Regions from separate parts of the Homo sapiens genome. Here region 2 is linked to region 1. The links come from fine-mapping of genetic effects on gene expression. Tissue or cell type: lung. Region 1 holds a variant in brackets; the other region holds the start of a gene. All regions are shown on one strand. Distances are between the middles of the regions.

What was found. PIP is the estimated chance that this variant, and not a neighbour inherited with it, causes the effect.
Region 2: TPD52L2 starts here. The variant in region 1 is fine-mapped to the expression of TPD52L2 in lung (TOPMed, PIP above 0.99).

The regions. Positions count from the first base shown.
Region 1 is chr20:63,771,031-63,781,002 of GRCh38, forward strand. ZBTB46 (zinc finger and BTB domain containing 46) reads right to left here. Exons shown (of 5, transcript NM_001369741.1): 3 at 4,648-4,932. LOC124904956 (a long non-coding RNA gene) reads right to left here and starts at 1,019. Exons shown (of 2, transcript XR_007067720.1): 1 at 780-1,019; 2 at 1-691. RefSeq lists enhancers at 1,373-2,289, 6,890-7,427. The variant G/A (reference allele first, on the strand shown) is at 6,296.
Region 2 is chr20:63,860,170-63,870,141 of GRCh38, forward strand. TPD52L2 (TPD52 like 2) reads left to right here and starts at 5,101. Exons shown (of 7, transcript NM_003288.4): 1 at 5,101-5,215; 2 at 9,127-9,272. The coding sequence starts at 5,197. It overlaps ABHD16B (abhydrolase domain containing 16B), which reads left to right and starts at 1,329. Exons shown (of 1, transcript NM_080622.4): 1 at 1,329-2,819. The coding sequence starts at 1,372. The coding sequence ends at 2,781. ABHD16B-AS1 (ABHD16B antisense RNA 1) reads right to left here and starts at 4,904. Exons shown (of 2, transcript NR_165314.1): 1 at 4,655-4,904; 2 at 1,046-4,101. RefSeq lists enhancers at 3,829-4,058, 4,152-5,351, 4,391-5,111, 5,833-6,552 and a silencer at 4,519-4,568.

The DNA of each region.
Region 1 (9,972 bases):
CGGCCACGCCCGGCACAGCAGCCACGCCGCTCGAACCACAGCAGGGGCTACTCGCCCTCCCAGGCCCTCTTCAGAGCTGGCCTGAGTTGAAGCTGCGTTCCTCCTGCTCTGAGGGCTGGGTACCGGGGACCCTCGCCCAGCCGAGGCCGCTCTTGTCTTCTTCTCTCTTCCGACAGGGAGCGGAGGAGAGAGGAGCCGGCGGCCCCCGGGGCTCAGGGGCGCATTTCCAGAGCTGCAAGATGGCGGGGGGGCTACGCCACAAGCTGCAATGAGCTGCCCCCACTCTCCGGCCCCCACAGTCACCCCCACATTCAGCAATGGGAGGACACGGCTCTGCGTCCATGACCCTCCAGAAGGAGGGGAGGGAGAGAGGGGGGCCACGCGGTCCCGCCGGGCCTGGCGCTCCCGCACGGTGTTGAGAGACTTAGAAGTCCGTGAGTTCAACGCTTCAGATCAGCAGACGGCGTCAGACCCCGGGGCTCAGTTCTCTCCCCCGATCAGCGTCCACCTGGGTACCGGCGAGTGGGGCTACGCCGTGAACTCTGAGGCGCTCCTCCACCGCGGCAGCCCCCCGAGAGGCCAGGCCCCCGGACCCCACCTTCAGATCACACCGAGGCGCCTCGGCTAAGGCTTCCCTGGACGCAGGCGCTGGTGTCCACGGTTTACTCCCGCGCGGATTCCACGGGACCACCTGTCGGGGACAGAAGGCCTACGGCAGTGAGGGAGGACCACAGAACTTTGGAAAATCCAAGTTTTTTCTGAGTATTTCCATTATTTACCTCAGTGCATGCCGGAAACAGGCAGGGGCCACACAGGATGCCAGAAAATTACGTTTTAAAATAACCTGTCCCCCGCCGAGTTCTACAGCCACTCTGCTGGGCAGGCGTCTGGGGCATCCAGTTCACAGCCCGACAGGCGAAGGATGCTGACAACTTCTAAACCGTGTTTACAGAAAACAAAAGGGCAAATTCTTTTTTTTTTTTTTTTCTGACGAGTTTCGGTCTTGTTGCCCAGGTTGGAATGGCATGATCTCGGCTCACGGCAACCTCCTCCTTCCAGGTTCAAGCGATTCTCCTGCCTCAGTCTCCCAAGTAGCTGAGATTACAGGTGCCCGCCACCACACCCGGGTAATTTTTTGTATTTTTAGTAGAGACAGGGTTTCGCCATGTTGGCCAGGCTGGTCTTGAACTACTGACCTCAGGTGATCCACCTGCCTTGGCCTCCCAAAGTGCTGAGATTACAGGTGTGAACCATCATGCCTGGCCCAAAAGGGCAAATTCTTACAAGAGAAATAGAAAATTTAGAATATTAAAAATGAGGTTAGAACTTAAGAGAAATAACAAAAGACCCACCAGCCAACTTCACCTGGAATTAGTCACAGATGAACTAAAAACTGAGTGAGATGGGGCCAGGCGGGATGGCTCACGCCTATAAACCCGGCACTTTGGGAGGCTGAGGCAGGCAGATCGCCTGAGCTCAGGAGTTCGAGACCAGCCTGGCCAACATGGTGAAACCCTGTCTCTACTAAAAATATAAAAATTAGTGGGGTGTGGGGGCACCCATCTGTAGTCCCAGCTACTTGGGAGGCTGAGGCAGGAGAATTGCTGGAGCCCGGGAGGCAGAGGCTGCAGCGAGCTGAGATAGTGCCAATGCACTCCAGCCTGGGCAAGAGAGCGAGACCCTGTCTCAAAAACACACACACACACACACACACACACACACACACACACACACACAGAAGTGCGGGGTGTGCCCTCACCCCACCTTCAGGATTTAGGACACACTCAGGATGCAGAGGACACAGCACTCTCACTGCAGGGAGAGGCCCTGGGAAAAAGCCAGAACCACTCAAGGTCCCAGCCTCAGGCTCCGCGGCCACTCCCTCCACGTGCTCCGGGGCTCGCTTCCGGAAAGGAGGGGCCCAGAACAGAAAAGCCCCGAGGAAGGGGAGAAACTGCCAGGGCCACCAAGGCCGAGCTGGGGTATGTGTTCCCCAAGGTCAGACCTGGCACCACAGGGCCCACAGCTCGTATGCCACGGGTGAAATCGACATCTTCTGCCAAGCCGTGCCCTCCGACCCCATCTGCTGCACACACAAACCAGCAAAGGCTTCATGGACGGAGCCACACCCAGGGAGGGCTGTCAGACGCAGAAACAGTAGAAAAAGCACAAACAAATTGTTTCCCCTCAGTCCAATGGCTTTTTTTTTTTTTTTTGAGACAGTGTCTCACTCTGTCACCCAGGCTGGAGGGCAATGATGCAATCATGGCTCACTGCAGCCTCAACCTCCTGGGCTCAAGCGATCCTCCCACCTCAGCCGCCTGAGTAGCTGGGACTACGGGCACAAGGCACCATCATGCTGGGCTAACTTCTTGTAGGGATGGGGTTTCCCCACGTTGCCCAGGCTCCCAAAGTCGTTCTTAATGACCAAGACACACCAGCTGTACCTGGGGTGCTGCAAAGGAACTGGGTGTGTTGGGGTCCCTGCCCTGAATGAGTGTATACGACGGTCTGAGAGATCCACAGGAAACAGCACCCAAGCCCCTCATGTGAAAAGGCGCTCGGAGGGGAGGGTAGTGAGGGAGGCCTGGGATCCCCCTCCGACGGCACCCACGGGCATGTGCCACCGGCCGCACCCAAGCTGCTCATGTGAAAAGGCGGTCGGAGGGGAGGGTAGTGAGGGAGGCCCGGGATCCCCCTCCGACCGCACCCACGGGCATGCGCCGCTGGCCGCACCCAGCCTGTCCCTCCTGACGCCCACGAAACGTGCCCAGCGCTCCATCTGACCGGCTGGCCGACTGCAGGATGCCCACATGCCCTGCCACCGCCTCCTGGAAAGGCCCCAGTACCCCGGGGTTTGCTCAAATCCAACCATTTCTGCTGACAAGTACACTTTTGCATTTGAGAGGGGACGGGGCCAACATCTTGGAGCATAAATCACAAACACTCTGCCTGCACCGTGTTTGATATTTTAGAAACGCTATTTTGTTTGAATTCACAACAGCTGTGTAAGTGGCACCCCCCGCCCCCCCCCCCCCCCCCAGTTTTTCAGATGTGGGAAGTGAGGCCTCAGGATGTCTGTGACAGCCCAGCACCCACAGCTTGTCCCGTCTGTGCAGTGCTCAGCCCTGAGCCTCACTTTCAGGGCCAAGACCCTTCGACGGACACGGCTCCTCACTGAGTACACGGAATAAAGGGAAGGTGAACACCACTTTCCACATGTAGTCTTTATTACCCACAAACAGTTGGCATCAGTGCTCACACCAACGCGAAAATTCGAAAGAATATTTTAGTGCTTATGAAAACAAAGTTGTAAAAATATTGTTTTTTAGAGCAGCGTAAAGAAACAGAGAAACAGATATACTTCCCAAATCCCAGCATCAAGGACAGCTGGCACGTTTCCTTCCTTCACTTCCCTCAATACTCAGCAAACAATGTGTCCACACCACTCAGCACGCCTGGACCCCAGCCGCGGAGGTGGGGGCATCTCATGCCGGACTCGCTCCCTCCTCCCCTGGAGAGAAACGGGAGGCGCCTCACTCACTCTCAGCCGCATGCTGAGTGCCAGCTATGTGCTAGGTGCCAGCACCAGGCCTTGCCCGGGGGCCCACATGAGCGCGAGACCAGAAGGCAGCTGGCTGGGGGCTGGCTGCGGTGGGTTTTTTTTGTTTTTTTTTTTGTTTTTTTTTTTGAGACAGAGTCTCCCTCTGTCGCCCCGGCTGGAGTGCAGTGGCGCGATCTCGGCTCACTGCAAGCTCTGCCTGCCGGGTTCACGCCATTCTCCTGCCTCAGTCTCCCGAGTAGCTGGGACTACAGGCGCCCGCCACCACGCCCGGCTAATTTTTTGTATTTTTAGTAGAGACGGGGTTTCACCGTGTTGGCCAAGATGGTCTCGATCTCCTGACCTCGTGGTCTGCCCGCCTCAGCCTCCCAAAGTGCTGGGATTGCAGGCGTGAGCCACCGCGCCCGGCCCCTTTGTTTTTTTAAACTCCGAAAGCTGAATGCCCCCGTCTTGTCAGGAAGTCAGTCAGTCTGGGGTGAGCCCGACACGCAGCAGTGGCTGAACTTTTGGCCACATCTCGGCAGGCGCGTCGTCGTTTGGATTCAGCTGGGGACATTTACGTTTTAAAGACAACCTCCGACGCATCTTTAAAAGTCACACGCCACCAGCATCATCCAGCGAAGGCAACGCAAGGCGAGGCCCCCAAGTGCAATCGGCTCGCAGCGGCCGCCCCCATCTCCCTTGCGCGAAACGAGCCTCAGCACGAAGGCGACAGAGGGGCCGGCAGGGGGCGCCCGAGCCCGTCTCTGGAGCACAAAGACCCCCGGCCCCTGCGCGACCCGGACGAGCTCGCATTCAGCCAACGACTCCTGTGAGAAACATTCCAGCAAGCACTCGGCTGCTCCCCTGCCCGCCGCGCTCACAACCGCGTCCATTCCCTCCTCACTCTAAAGCCAGCCCCCCGTGCACCTGAGAGGCCAGTCCAGGCTGTGACGCCGCATCCTCACCTCCCGCAACAGGGAGGTCAGCAGGCGGCCGAGCAGCAGGGACAGACCCTCAGCCTCATCTCATCTTGGCCCGGGACCTGCAACCCTCAGCCTTCAAAACCACACCAAAGCCAAGCGGCCCCCAGGGCCTGCACTTACGGGACAGCGAGTGGGCCCCTCTGGGCAGGTACTCGAACAGCAGGGAGCCGTCATCCCCCAGCACGTCGGCCTTCAGCGACAGCAGGCTGTTCTTACTCATGAGCGCCGCGCGCAGGTTGGCCACCGCGGTGGCCTGATGCAGGGCGTCGTCCTTCTCTGGGGTGAGGGGAGGGCCCAGATAGCTGGCTTCTCCTCCCAGGAGACCCTCCTCCACCTGTGCATAGAGCTCGGCCCTCTCTCCTCGGCTGTCGGAGCTGCTGGCTTCGGTGACGGACAGGTCCGCATCTGGGGACAGAGGGACACACGTCAGAAGACACGGGTCGTTCCCAGACTCTCCAAGTGGGACAGGCGACACATTTAGAAGGACAGCGACCAGCTTCTGCCTGAGCTACAGAGCAGCATCAAGTCCAGCCCACCCTGGGAGCCGGGCACCTGCCCCAGCAATGCAGCAGCCTCGGCCCAGCCCGGCCTTTCCTGCCCACCCAGGTCCCATGGCTGCGGTGGAGTCTCAGCCAAGGCTTTGGAGGACGGCTCAACTCAGAACAACGGGGTTGCCCTCCCTGGACGAGGCGCTGCAGACCTGGTACCTGCTCTGCTCCAGGGCCGAGGGCCTGAGAGTCAGAGGCTCCTGGGGCGGCAGTATTTCCATCTCGCAAAGACGAGGAGAGGCTCAAAATGGATCAATGACGTTAGAGCTAAATCTATAAAATTCTTAGAAGAAAATCCGCATGATCTCAGATTTGGCAATAGGTTCTTAGATACAAAACCAAGCACAAGCAACAAAATAAATTGGACTCATCAAAATTAAATGTCTGTGCTTCAAAGGATACTACCAAGAAAGTGACGCCGGGTGCGGTGGCTCAAGCCTGTGATCCCAGCACTCTGGGAGGCCGAGGCGGGCGGATCATCTGAGGTCAGGAGTTCAAGGCCAGCCTGGCCAACATGGTGAAACCCCATCTCTACTAAAAATACAAAAATTAGCCGGGCGTGGTGGCACGTGCCTGTAATCCCAGCTACTCAGTAGGCTGCGGCAGGAGAATCGCTTGAACCCAGGAGGTGGAGGTTGCAATGAGCCGAGATCACACCACTGCACTCTAGCCTGGGCGACAGAACAACGCTCTGTCTCAAAAAAAAAAAAAAATTGCAACCTATATATCTGATAATAAAAAGGCAAATACTGTAACTCAATATAAAAATGGGCAAAAAATCTTACTAGACATTTGTCCAAAGAAGATGTATAAATGGCCAAGACGCACAGGAAGAGATGCTCAGCATCACCCATCACTAAGGAAACGCAAAACACAACACGATTCCACCACACAATACGGTTCCAGCACACGCCACGGTTCCACCACACGCCACGGTTCCACCACACGCCACGGTTCCAGCACACGCCACGGTTCCACCACACGCCACGGTTCCAGCACACGCCACGGTTCCACCACACGCCACGGTTCCAGCACACGCCACGGTTCCAGCACACACCCACTGGGATGGCTGGATATAAAAAGGCCAGGCACCGTGGCTCACGCTTCCAGTCCCAACATTTTGGGAGGCTAAGACCGGAAGATCTATTGAGAACAGGAGTTCAAGACCAGCCTGGGCAACACAGCAGGACAAAAAGTTAAAATAAAACAAAATTAGCTGA[G/A]TGTGGTGGGTTGTGCCTGTGGTCCTAGCTACTCAGGAGGCTGCGGCGGGAGGATCACTTGAGCCTGAGAGGTTGAGGCTGTGGTGAGCTGTGATCGAGCCACTGTACTCCAGTCTGGGTGACAGAGTGAGACCCTATCTCAAAAACAACAACAAAAAAGATCAGATAATATTGGCAAGGATGGGAAGAAATCAGAACCCTGGAACCTTGCTGGTAAGAGTGTAACATGGTGCCCTCCTGCGGAGCAGGTCGGCAGGTCCTCACAACATCAGGTACAGGAATCACCACGGGGCCCAGCAGTTCCACATGTACGCATGCAGATACCCACGAGAAATGAAGACACAAAAGCTCACAGAAAACCTCGTCCAGGACGCGCGTAGCACGTTATCCATAACAGCCAAAAGGTGGAACAGCCAACAAGTCCATCGATGGACGAATGGATAAACATAACAGGTCCATCCCCACAATGGAATATTATGTGGCCATGAAAAGGCATGAAGAACAGACACAGGCCACCACACAGAGGAGCCGTGAAAACATGCTCAGCGGACGAAGCCAGACACAGAACCACGCAGAGGAGCCTTGAAAACTGCTGAGTGAACAAAGCCAGACACAGAAGGCCACATGCCATTTCATTTCCATTAAATATCCAGAACAGGCAAATCAAGACAGAAAGTAGGTTTGTGGCTGCAAAAAGGGGCTGGGGAGGGGTCTCGGATGAGGGCTAAGTGGTGCAGGGTTTCCCTCTGAGCCGAGGAAAATGTTCTAAGGGGACTGTGCTGATGGCTACAGGATGCTGTGAATATACCATACCAAAAACCTCTGAACTGCAGACTTTAAATGGGTGAGTGGGGTGTGAATCATCTCTCAGTAAAGCTTCTATTTAACAACAACAACAAAAACAACAAAAGGTGACGACTTGAGTCATGAATTCAACGGATTCCTCCGAGTGTCAGCTCAGGCCAGCCAGGGCTTTGTGGAGTACCCTCCCTCTAGTGGGGCTGTATGCACGATATCAAAACACCCCCAGAACACGCTGAGCGATGATGATTTGCAGATATTTTCCCACAGCAAGAGAATGGATTTTCCACCGTGGTCGTTGACAGGAATCGGGATCAGAACCACAGAAACACAGGGGCATGGGGCAGGGGGCACTTGGAGCAGGGGCAGAGGTGACGTCTGCAAACACCCCTGGAACAAACATGCACACGTGAGGCCCAGCAGCTGAGAGCTGGGTGTGGCAGGTGGGCAGGGCCCCCGTCAGGCAGCACACGGGGTGAGTCCAGCCTGGCAGGAGCGGGTGGGAGTCTCCAGGGACAGTGACATTCGGACCGTCGAGCTACCTATGACTTCTTCTGGAGGCCTCTAAGGGATATGTTTCCAAACTCTACTCTTTTTCCAAACTATACTCCTTTTTATATTTTTTTACAAATCCCTCGATGACACATCATATTAATTGTGCATTTCTAGGAACTAAATATACAGGTTATATCCAAACTTATGTTAAGGCTTTGTCTTAGCTTGGGATGCCATGACAAAATACCACAGGCAGGGCGGCTTAACAACGAAAATTAGTTTCCTCACGCTCTGGAGACTGGGAAGTCCAAGGTCAAGGTGCCAGCAGATCTGCTGTCTGGTGAGGCCCCTCCTGACCTGCAGATGGCGGCAGGTGAGCCCTGGGGGCCCCTCCTCAGAGTCTGGGAGCAGAGTGGGTGGTGGGTGCTGTGTGCTCACGAGCGTGTTCAGGGATCAGGGCCCCGCCTGTGACTTCACTTTATCACTTCCTTCAAGGCCCTCCCCAGACGCAGCCACACGGGGGCTGGGGTTTCAACACATGAGTGTGGGGGTGCACATTCAGCTCATAACAGGCTTCAAAAAAAATCACCCAATTTTATTTTATTTAATTAATTAATTAATTTATTTATTTATTTTGAGACGGAGTTTCGCTCTTGTTGCCCAGGCTGGAGTGCAATGGCATGATCTCAGCTCACCGCAACCTCCGCCTCCCGGCTTCAAGTGATTCTCCTGCCTCAGCCTCCTGAGTAGCTGGGATTACAGGTGCGTGCCACCACGCCGGCTAATTTTTTTTTTTTTTTTTTTTTTTTTTTTTTTGAGACGGAGTCTTGCTCTGTCACCCAGGCTGGAGTGCAGTGGCATGATCTTGGCTCACTGCAAGCTCCGCCTCCCAGGTTCACGCCATTCTCCTGCCTCAGCCTCCTGAGTAGCTGGGACTACAGGGCGCCTGCCACCACACCTGGCTAATTTTTTGTATTTTTAGTAGAGACGGGGTTTCACCGTGTTAGCCAAGATGGTCTCGATCTCTTGACCTCGTGATTCGCCCCCCTCAGCCTCCGAGAGTGCTGGGATTACAGGCCTGTGAGCCACCGCGCCCGGCCGCTAATTTTTGTATTTTTAGTAGAGACGGGGTTTCACCACATTGGTCAGGCTGGTCTCAAACTCCCAACCTCAGGTGATCTGCCCACCTCAGACTCCCAAAGTGCTGGGATTACAAGCATGAGCCACCATGCCTGGCCAAAATCACCCAATTTTAAAGCCAAATTTTAAATCTAAATTATTGTAACAAATCAAGGTGAAAAACACATAAAAGAAATCAGGATAAGCTGAAAGAACTCTCCCTTGTGTGAAATGCTAAAATTTGGGTTTCCGCCAGGCACAGTGTCTCATGCCTGTAATCCCAGCATTTTGGGAGGCCGAGATGGGTGGATCATGAAGTCAGGAGTTTGAGACTAGCCTGGCCAGCCCGGTGAAACCCCGTCTCTACTAAAATACAAAACATTAGCTAGGCATGGCGGTGCGTGCTTGTAATCTCAGCTACTCGGCAAGCTGAGGCAGGAAAATCGCTTGAACCAGGGAGACAGAGGTTGCGGTGAGCCGAGATCACACCATTGCACTCCAGCCTGGGCAACAAGAGTGAAACTCCATCTCAAAAAAAAAAAAGACAGATAAAAGAAATTCTCATTAATTTTATGTATATAGTAGTTAGCAAGGTAACTCAATGGATAAAAGACAGGTTTCTTAGCAAGCAGCACTGGAACAACCTTATAATCCTATGTAAAAAGTGAACCTCAAGCTGATCTCACGCCACATACAAAAAAACCAACTTGAATCATGGAGCTATGCGTTATACTTAAATTGATAAAAACTCAAGAAAAACCATAGGAGAAAGTCTTTGTTGGCTGGGCACGGTGGCTCATGCCTGTAATCCCAGCACTCTCGGAGGCTGAGGCGGGCGGATCACGAGGTCAGGAGTTCAAGACCATCCTGGCTAACATGGTGAAACCCCGTCTCTACTAAAAATACAAAAAATGAGCCGGGCGTGGTGGCGGGCGCCTGTAGTCCCAGCTACTCGGGAGGCTGAGGCAGGAGAATGGTGTGAACCCAGGAGGCAGAGCTTGCAGTGAGCCGAGATTGCACCACTGCACTCCAGCCTGGGCGACAGAATGATACTCCGTCTCAAAAAAAAAGGATCCTCCTGAAGAGACACTGTTAAATGAAAAAAGGAGGCCATGCACAGTGGCTCACGCCTGTAATCCCAACATTTTGGGAGGCCAAGGCGGGTGGATCATGAGGTCAGGAGTTCAAGACCAGCCTGACCAACATGGTGAAACCCCATCTCTACTAAAAAAAAAAAAAAAAATACAAAAATTAGCTGGGCG
Region 2 (9,972 bases), 89 kb after region 1:
AAGCAGAAGTTGGAACATACTTATACCCAAAAAGTATTTGTTTATTTGTAATTCCAATTTAACTGGCATATTATTCTGTATTTTATCTGGCAACCTAGAATGGGGGTAATAGCCCCCCAAATCGCTCCCTTTGTTAATTGGTCCCTGTCTTCTGTCCCCCAACCCCTAAAGGCAGCAGCTGACTCCCCCAACTAGGGGCGGGGCCTGTTAGGGTCAGGCAGTGCCTCTAACCCAGACGCTGAGCAGGAGAGCAGAGAGGGGGTGCTTCAGCCTGAAACTACCCCTTCCCCAGAAGGCTGGGGTCCCAGGCGGGCCTGGCACCTGGGCTCAGAGGCTCTGGCTGGATTTGCCAAACTCCCTGATTGTAGCATGTTTGTTTCTGGTCTGGGGAGCTGTTGAGTACCTGGAGCTGCCCTCTTCCCTGGGGCTCCTCCTGGCAGGCGGCTTCCGACCCTGCCCTCAGGTGGGCTGGCCCTTTCCAGGGCAGGAGAAAAGATACCTCTCCAGAAAAGAGGGAGGCGCAGCCTGGGAGTGGGGGCTCGACCCAGGAGCGAGAAAGAGGAACCCCAGCCAGGCAGGACCCGCCCCAGAAGGTCACTGCTGTTGCTGGCAGCCAGTGAAAAGAGGATCCAGAAAAGGAGAGGGCTTGTTTCTGGTCAGCACCGAAGAAGGAAGGTGTGGAGAGGAGGGGCCGGGCCGAGAGCAAATACCGCCTTTTTGGTGCAGCAGCAGCCCTGTCTCTGACCCCGGCCGTCCTGGGGAGATGAGGTTTAAACCAGCAGACCCTGAAGGGAAACTTGCAGGACCCACAGCAAGCCTGGTACAGGCGGAGGAGGCCTTGCTGTCCCTTTTTGGCCCGTGGGGCTGTCCATCTTAAATTTAAGGAAGAGGGAGGCGGGGTGCAGGGACTCACACCTGTAATCCCAACACTGTGGGAGGTGGAGGCGGGGTGCAGGGACTCACACCTGTAATCCCAACACTGTGGGAGGTGGAGGCGGGAGGATCGCTTGAGCCCAGGGGTTCAAGACCAGCCTAGGCAGCATAGTGAGACCCCATCTCAATTTAATAAATAAATAAGGAAGAAAGAGGGAGACAGTAGCTGCTCAAATCATGGGTGGGAAAGCTGGGCCTGGGAGCGTTTAGCTGGTGGGGTCTTGGCGAAGGCGGGGGACGGGCAGAACCTTGGGTTCATCATCTCTGGGAACCCTTTGTGCACCCATCACCTAGCAACAGGATGCAGCCTTCCCTCCGCCCTGGAAGGCCAGGTCACAAAGGCCATCAGGGCTTGTCCGGGAGCCGGTATCCCCTAAGACTGCCCTGTGCCTCTCGCGGCGATCCCGGCCCAGCGGCTGGGCGTTAGGGCCACCGCTCATGTGCGTCATCTGCTTCGTGAAGGCGCTGGTGCGCGTGTTCAAGATCTACCTGACCGCCAGCTACACCTACCCATTCCGCGGCTGGCCCGTGGCCTTCCGCTGGGATGACGTGCGCGCCGTGGGCCGGAGCAGCAGCCACCGGGCGCTGACCTGCGCGGCAGCCGCGGCGGGCGTGTGGTTGCTGCGGGACGAGACGCTGGGCGGGGATGCGCTGGGGCGGCCTCCACGTGGGGCGCGCAGCCAGGCGCAGTGCCTCTTGCAGCAGCTCCGCGAGCTGCCCGGCCAGCTCGCTAGCTACGCGCTGGCCCACTCGCTGGGCCGCTGGCTCGTGTACCCCGGCTCCGTGTCCCTGATGACGCGCGCGCTGCTGCCGCTGCTGCAGCAGGGCCAAGAGCGCCTCGTGGAGCGCTACCACGGCCGGCGCGCCAAGCTGGTGGCCTGTGACGGCAACGAGATCGACACTATGTTCATGGACCGCCGCCAGCACCCGGGCAGCCACGTGCACGGGCCGCGCCTCGTCATCTGCTGCGAAGGCAACGCGGGCTTCTACGAGATGGGCTGTCTGTCTGCACCGCTCGAGGCCGGCTACTCCGTGCTGGGCTGGAACCACCCCGGCTTCGGCAGCAGCACTGGCGTGCCCTTCCCTCAGCACGACGCCAACGCCATGGACGTGGTGGTCGAGTACGCACTGCACCGCCTGCACTTCCCGCCCGCGCACCTGGTGGTCTACGGCTGGTCTGTTGGCGGCTTCACGGCCACCTGGGCCACCATGACCTACCCGGAGCTGGGTGCACTGGTGCTGGACGCCACCTTCGACGACCTTGTGCCGCTGGCGCTGAAGGTCATGCCCCACAGTTGGAAGGGGCTGGTGGTGCGCACCGTGCGCGAGCACTTCAACCTCAACGTGGCCGAGCAGCTGTGCTGCTACCCGGGGCCGGTGCTGCTGCTCCGACGCACGCAGGATGACGTGGTCAGCACTTCGGGCCGCCTGCGCCCCCTGTCACCTGGTGACGTGGAGGGCAACCGGGGCAATGAGCTGCTGCTGCGCCTGCTGGAGCACCGCTACCCCGTCGTGATGGCGCGAGAGGGCCGCGCCGTCGTCACCCGCTGGCTGCGCGCTGGCAGCTTGGCGCAGGAGGCCGCCTTCTATGCACGCTACCGCGTGGACGAGGACTGGTGCCTGGCGCTGCTGCGCTCCTACCGTGCACGCTGCGAAGAGGAGCTGGAGGGCGAGGAGGCCCTGGGGCCACACGGACCCGCCTTCCCATGGCTGGTGGGCCAGGGCCTGAGCTCGCGGCGGCGCCGGCGCCTCGCACTGTTCCTGGCTCGGAAGCACCTCAAGAACGTGGAGGCGACTCACTTCAGCCCTCTGGAGCCTGAGGAGTTTCAGTTGCCCTGGCGGCTGTAACCTATATGCCCCAGTGGGGGATCACGCACTTGAACTCCTGGCCTTCTTGGTTCACCTCCCCATACCGCCAACCATTGCAGGGGGCCGGCGCCGACGCGGGGCGGGGCGGGGGGGGGCGCGCGGGGTGCTCCTGATCTGCTGTCTGGGGGAGGGTAGGCAGAACACGGGGACTTGGTGCTCTCCTTCCTTCACAGGGGCGTTCTGACCGTCCTCCCATTCTTCCTAGCTCTGTCCCCTCCTTTCTCTCTTCCTCCTACAAATACTTTTGGCTGCCCCCACCCAGCTCCTAAGGGAATGAAAGGTTAACCTGACCCGGTTTATGGCAATACTGTGTGATGGGTGCCTTGATCACCACAAAAGGATGATGGGAACGGGGCTGTGGGGTCCCAGGGAGGAGCCCTTCACCTGGCCTGGGTTACAGGATGGCTCCTGGGAAGACAATGCCAGCTGTGCGCTGAAAGTCTGTGCAAGCTGCTCCCGTGAAAAGGAGGACATTGGCATGGCAGGGCTGTGGGCAGGTCTTAGTGGCTGGACATTCCCAGGAGTTAGCACTGGCTATCATTCTGTAGGGCTCCCTCCCACCTCCAAACTCCTGGCTTCTACACCAGGGCATTCACAGACAGATTGCAGACTCACATGGTGGCATGTGAGGCTACAGATACACTTGCACAGGCCAGAGGATACTACTGCGTGTCCCCTGGAGCCAGGCCTGGGCTGGACTTTGTTCCTGGCTTAGGGATGCAACACAGAATGGGACAAGGCCTCTGCTCACAATGGTCTGTAATGTCACATCTCTGTGGTCTGCCCTGAACTGCCTGAAGCAGGGACTATTGTCCCTACATGTCCCTAGTCCCCGGGCTGGCCTGGTTGGGTTGAGCAAGAATCTCTGGAAAGAATGAAAGGCAGCAAATGGAGAAAACATTACTGAGAGCACGAGAGCAGGCTAAGGCCGTGGTGGTAAGGGACTCGGGCCTGTGCAAGAGTACCAGGAAGACACCTGTGGGAGGAGGTGGCCGGGTGAAGGAAGGGGCAGTGGGAGGAGCTTCCATGCCTAGGGACCAGTACCACCCCAGGCTGGAAGCCCAGAGTGGAGTCCTAGGACATCAGATCCTAAAGGGCTTGAATACCGTTTAAGGCTTTTCTTCCGGGAGCAAGTAGGAGCCAAAGAAGGGAAGTTGCGGGACTTGTTTTCGTGGGGCCAGTTGCCTGGTGGTTACGCGCCTCTCCTCTGAAGTCAGGCATCCTGTTCCAGAGTATCCTGGTTGCGCTTCAACTTGCGGAGTGACCTGGGGCAAGTGACTTTAACCTCAGCTTCCTCATCTGTGGAGTGGGGAGGGCGCAGCGCTGGTCGCCCTGAACAGGAAGTGAGACAACCTCGGGGTGCACACGCGCAGGCCCGAGCCGCAGGGTCCACGCCCGAGGCGAGGCGGCAGCGGCGCCTGCAGGGCGAGGGGACGAATCGCGATCTTTTTCAGAGTAACCCGCGTACAATAAAAAGTCCCCATGAAAAGGACAAACTAGCCAGGCGTGAGGGGCGGTGGCTCACGCCTGTAATCCCAGCACTTTAGGAGGCCGAGGCGGGTGGATCACCTAAGGTCAGGAGTTCTAGACCAGCCTGGCCAAGGTGGCGAAACCCCCGTCTCTACTACAAATACGAAAATTAGCCGGACGTGTTGGCGCGCGCCTGTAATTCCAGCTACTCGGGAGGCTGAGGCTGGAGAATCGCTTGAACCCGGAGGGCAGAGATTGGAGTGAGCTGAGATCGCGCCATGGCACTCCAGCCTGGGCAACAAGAGTGAAACTCCGTCTCAAAAACAAACAAAAAAGGACCAACTAAAAAAAGAATATAAATACAATAAATAACAGGACTTACGGGGGCAGGCTGACCCCTAAAGTAAGGGGTCGGGCTGGAAAGGATCTCAAGGGGTCAGAGTTTGAGCCGCCGAGGCGCGCGAGCCCCAGCACTCCTAGGCAGCTGCATCCGCCCCGGAAGATCCCCTGGGGCCCTGCGCTGGCTTTCCACAGCGCCATGTTGGACGGTCCTCCCACTTCCCACCTTCCCAGTCCTCCCGCTACTCTGACCGTTCTACCTGTGATTCTCGCTGGTGGAGTCAACCTGGAATGGATTCCCGCCGAACCACGCCTCCCTTTCCTGGTTCGCCCGCAGTTTCGGCCTATCAGGTTGAGTCGGGTAAACCAGGACGGGCCAAGCGGCACTCTCATTGGATATCACTGGTGGGGGCGGGAAGAAGGCGGAGCACGTGCCCGGGCGGAAGTAGCCGTCGCATCGCGGATTACGAAACGCCGCGGAGCTGAGGCAGTTCCGCTGGCTAGTGTGTACGCGGCGAGCTTCTCCCGGCGCCGCCCGCTCGGCTCCCATAGCGCCCGCGACAGCGGTCCGGACGCCGCCCGAACATGGACTCCGCCGGCCAAGGTACCTGCCGGGCCCGGCCCCTTCGCCGCAGATGGGCCCAGGCTGCCCGTTGTTCTCCGTCTCCCGGGGTCGCGTCTGCGACTCTCTGTCCTCTCGGTCTCGGTTCACCCACCCCGCGGCCCCTCTTCAGCTCCCGGGGCCACTGACCTCGAAGCTTATGATGGTCGTGGTGTGTTTTTTGCCCGCGGCCCAGACCGCTTCCTGGGCTCTCTCCAGCCGCCCTCCTGGTCTCCCCTGGGACCGTTCCGAGGTGTGGTTCCCTGGCGCCCGCCGTTGCTCCCGTAGTTTGGGTTCTGTCGCTCCCAGCAGGTCTCGCTTATGCCGCCCACCCCGTGCCCTGCTCTTGCTTGCTCTGCCACCCCCCGGTCCCTGCGCGGGGCCCTCGGGTTCACGCTGTCTGGCCCTGGACCCAGTCCGAGGTGTTGAGGGCGGCTCCCGAGCAGAGAAGGGGTCTTCGCGTTCAGCAGAGCTCCCCTTGGGCAGCAACTCTGCTCGGAGCTCAGCCTGCTTAGGGGTTGCCTCATGGAGAGGGGGTGGAGTGAGTCAGGGGCACACCCAGCATACCAGGCCTGTTTCCAGAACAGTCTCCCCAGAGCAGTATGAGATGGCCACTGAGGGGCGTGGAGCGAGCCCAGGAGATTAAAATCTTGAGAAGATGATAAAAGTCTGCCTTGCATTTTGGGGCTCTAGAGAGGGATGCTAAATTTCTTTCTTTCTTTCTTTCTTTCTTTATTTTTTTGAGACGGAGTCTTGCTCTGACGCCAGGCTGGAGTGCAGTGGCGCGATCTCAGCTCATTGCAACCTCGACCTCCCGGGTTCAAGCGATTCTGCTGCCTCAGCCTCCTGAGTAGCTGGGACTACAGGCACGCGCCACCAGGCCCAGCTAATTTTTGTATTTTTAGTAGAGGCAGGGTTTCACCATGTTGCCCAGGATGGTCTCGATCTCTTGACCTTGTGATCCGCCCGCCTCAGCCTCCCAAAGTGCTGGGATTACAGGCGTGAGCCACTGTGCCCGGCTACATATTAAGCTTTATAATTCCTAGGTGCTGCATTATTCTGGAGGGTGTTTTTTGTTTGTTTGTTTTTGTTTTTTTGAGATGGAGTCTCACTCTGTCGCCCAGGCTGGAGCGCAGTGGCTAGATCTCGGCTCACTGCAAGCTCCGCCTCCCGGGTTCACTGCCATTCTCCTGCTTCAGCCTCCCAACTAGCTGGGACTACAGGCGCCCGCCATCATGCCCGGCTAATTTTTTGTATCTTTAGTAGAGACGGGGTTTCACTGTTAGCCATGACGGTCTTGATACCCTGACCTCGTGATCTGCTTACCTCGGCCTCCCAAAGTGCTGGGATTACAGGCGTGAGCCACCGCGCCTGGCCTTTTTTTTTTTTTTTTTTAATTTTTTTTTTGGGGACAGCGTCTCCCTCTGTCTCCCAGGCTGGAGTGCAGTGGTGCAATCATAGCTTACTGCAATCTTCAACTCCTGGGCTCAAGCGATCTTCCTGCGTCAGCCTCCCAGGTAGCTGGGACTATAAGACTACAGGCGCACCATGCCAGGTTAATTGGTCTTTCTACTTTTTTTTTTTTTTTTGAGACGGATTTTCGCTCTTGTTGCCCACGCTGCAGTACAATGGCGCGATCATGGCTTCCCGCAACCTCTGCCTTCTGGGTTCAAGCGATTCTCCTGCCTCAGCCTCCCGTGTAGCTGGCATTACAGGCGTGCGCCACCATGCCCGGCTAATTTTGTATTTTTAGTAGAGATGGAGGTTTCTCCATGTTGGTCAAGCTGGTCTCGAACTTCTGACCTCAGGTGATCTGCCCGCCTTGGCCTCCAAAAGTGCTGGGATTACAGGTGTGAGCCATTGTGCCCAGCCTCATTTGTCTTTTTTTAAATAGAACAGAAAGGCTGGGCTCGGTGGCTTACGCCTGTAATTCTAACACATTGGGAGGCCGAGGCCAGTGGATCACTTGAGGTCAGGAGTTTGAGACCAGCCTAACCAACGTGCCAAAACCCCGTCTCTACTAAAAATAAAAAAATTAACCGGGCATGGTGGTGTGCTCCTGTAGTCCCAGCTACTTGGGAGGCTGAGGCAGGAGAATCGATTGAACCCAGGAGGTGGAGGTTGCAGTGAGCGGAGATCGTGCCACTGCACTCCAGCCTGGGTGACAGAGTAAGACTCGTCTAAAAAAAAAAAAAAGAGAATCAGTGGATAAAAAAGTGGATACGCTTCGTTTAGTAAGCGTTTGTGGAGCGCCAAGGAAGTGCACACGGCTCCAGTCCTATGGGACATTTGAAGGGAGTGAGATGCAGCCAGCTTTTAAGAAGAGTATCTTTGTTAAGTGCATTTAATCTGGTGTCTTTGTGTTGTCTTTTAAAAGGCATAGTTTTTTTTTCTTTTTCTTTTCTTTTGTTTTTTTTTTTTGAGACAGTCTCAAAAAAAAGAGACGGGGTTTCACCATATTGGCCAGGCTGGTCTTGAACTCCTGACCTCAGGTGATCCGCCCGCCTCAGCCTCCCAAAGTGCTGGGATTACCGGCATGAGCCACCCCGCCCGACCAGTTTTTCTTTTTTTTTTTAAAGAATTTTTTTTTGGCCGCGCGTGGTGGCTCAACGCCTGTAATCTCCCGGGTTCAAGTGATTCTCCTGCCTCAGCCTCCCAAGTAGCTGGGAACTACAGGCGCGTGCCACCACGCTAACTAATTTTGTATTTTTAGTAGAGACGGGGTTTCACCATTTTGGTCAAGCTGGTCTCGAACTCCTGACCTCATGTGATCCACCTGCCTCGGCCTCCAAAAGTGCTGGGATTATAGGCATGAGCCACTGCGCCTGGCAGTAAGCCTGTTTCTTTTCAGAATGTTTTGGTCAACAGGGAAAGTGTTACAATAGTCATGTGCTTGGATTTGGAGAGAATCGAAATAGACTGTTTTTCTTTATGTGAAATCTTGTAGACTTTTAGGGTAGTCAGGAAGATGCATTTGACATGAAGAAAAAACAGTGGCTGCAGGAATTTGAATGTGATCTGGGTGTAGTTGAGGTGTGTGGTGGCAGCACACCGCTCTGCACCTCTCTGCCTGCTGGCGGCCTTCTGGCAGTGGGATGAGAATCGGGAGGTAAGTAAAGGGAATTTTGTTTTGCTGCCTCCCTGAAGGAGCTGAATGAGCAGCATGTGCTCCTAGTACGTAATTTTAGCATGTGCTCTGTCAGATGTGTTGAGAGGAAAGTGATGCTTATTGTGTATATTAACCATATTAGGTTCCTTTTTTTAAAAAAAGTGGAAATTTGTCAGGGTATGGTGGCTCACACCTGTAATCCCAACACTTTGGGAGGCCAAGGCGGGCGGATCACCCGAGGTCGGGAATTGGAGACCAGCCTGGCCGACATGACGAAACCCCGTCTCTACTGAAAATACAAAAATAGCCAGCGTGGTGGCGTGCGCCTGTAATCCCAGCTACTCGAAGGCTGAGACAGGAGAATCACTTGAACCCGGGAGACGGAGGTTGCAGTGAGCTGAGATCGCACCATTGCACTCCAGCTTGGGAGGCAGAGTGAGACTCCATCAAAAAAAAAAGGTGGAAGGTCTGTTAGATTGAGCTGCTTTCTCTGTAGCAAGGGTTTCCTGCCTCTGACGATAGTATTCTCACTGGGAAGCCAGAATTCGGGTTTGCCTGCCTTGGGCCGGCATTTGTCGTGCCCTGAAGCAGCACAAGTGGCATTGGCTTTTCAGCTCAGGTGGTCTGAGGTGTGGCTGCCCTCGTCTACTGCCCATGCTGTCCTCACAGACCTTTCAGAGAAGAGGTGTTAGTCTCCAGGGTCTCACCCACTCCCACCTGTGCTTTTGTCCTGCTAGAGACCTCTACCGTATTTACTTGGAACTAACTTATTTGACACTTTGTGGCCTCATTTTGTCTCTGGCAGATATCAACCTGAATTCTCCTAACAAAGGTCTGCTGTCTGACTCCATGACGGATGTTCCTGTCGACACAGGTGTGGCTGCCCGGACTCCTGCTGTTGAGGGTCTGACAGAGGCTGAGGAGGAGGAGCTCAGGGCTGAGCTTACCAAGGTGCTGTGGCTTGGCTGTCTGTCCTGGGGTGAATTGGAGTTAAGGCCCTCTTGGATTAGTGAGAGGCCAGGGTACTGGCCACGCTCGGGAGGAATTGCCCTGGGTGGTCACCTACCCTGCTCTGTGTTCCGACTGATAACGGGGTTCTCTTTGTATGTGCCCAGCTCCATGCACTGGACTCAGAGCCACCTGGCAGTGGAGACAGGGCATGACTCCCTTCCCATACCTCTGTGCCTGGCCCTTCCTAAGTGCTCCCTGAGGAGTGTTCACACATGAACCGCCTCTGAGCAGCCATCTGCTGGGAGTGTCTCTGTTGGAATTAACACTTGATAATCATTTTTAAGACCCCATGAATCTTTCTTGTCCTGGATCTTAAGTTTTCTTTTAAACATATTTATTTTGGCTGGATGCAGTGGCTCATGCCTGTAATTCCAGCGCCTTAGGAGGACAGGGTGGTAAGGTGGGAAGATCACTTGAGCCCAGGAGTTTGAGAGCAGCCTGGGCAACACAGTGAGACCTTGTCTCTACCCCCAAAAATTAGCCAGGTGTGGTGGCATGTGCCTGTAGTCCCAGCTACTCAGGAGGCTGAGGTGAGAGGATTGCTTGAGGCCAGGAGGTCAAGGCTTCAGTGAGCTGTGATTGCATCCTGCACAGCAGCCTGGGTGACAGGGCGAGACCCTGTCTCAAAAACAAAACAAAA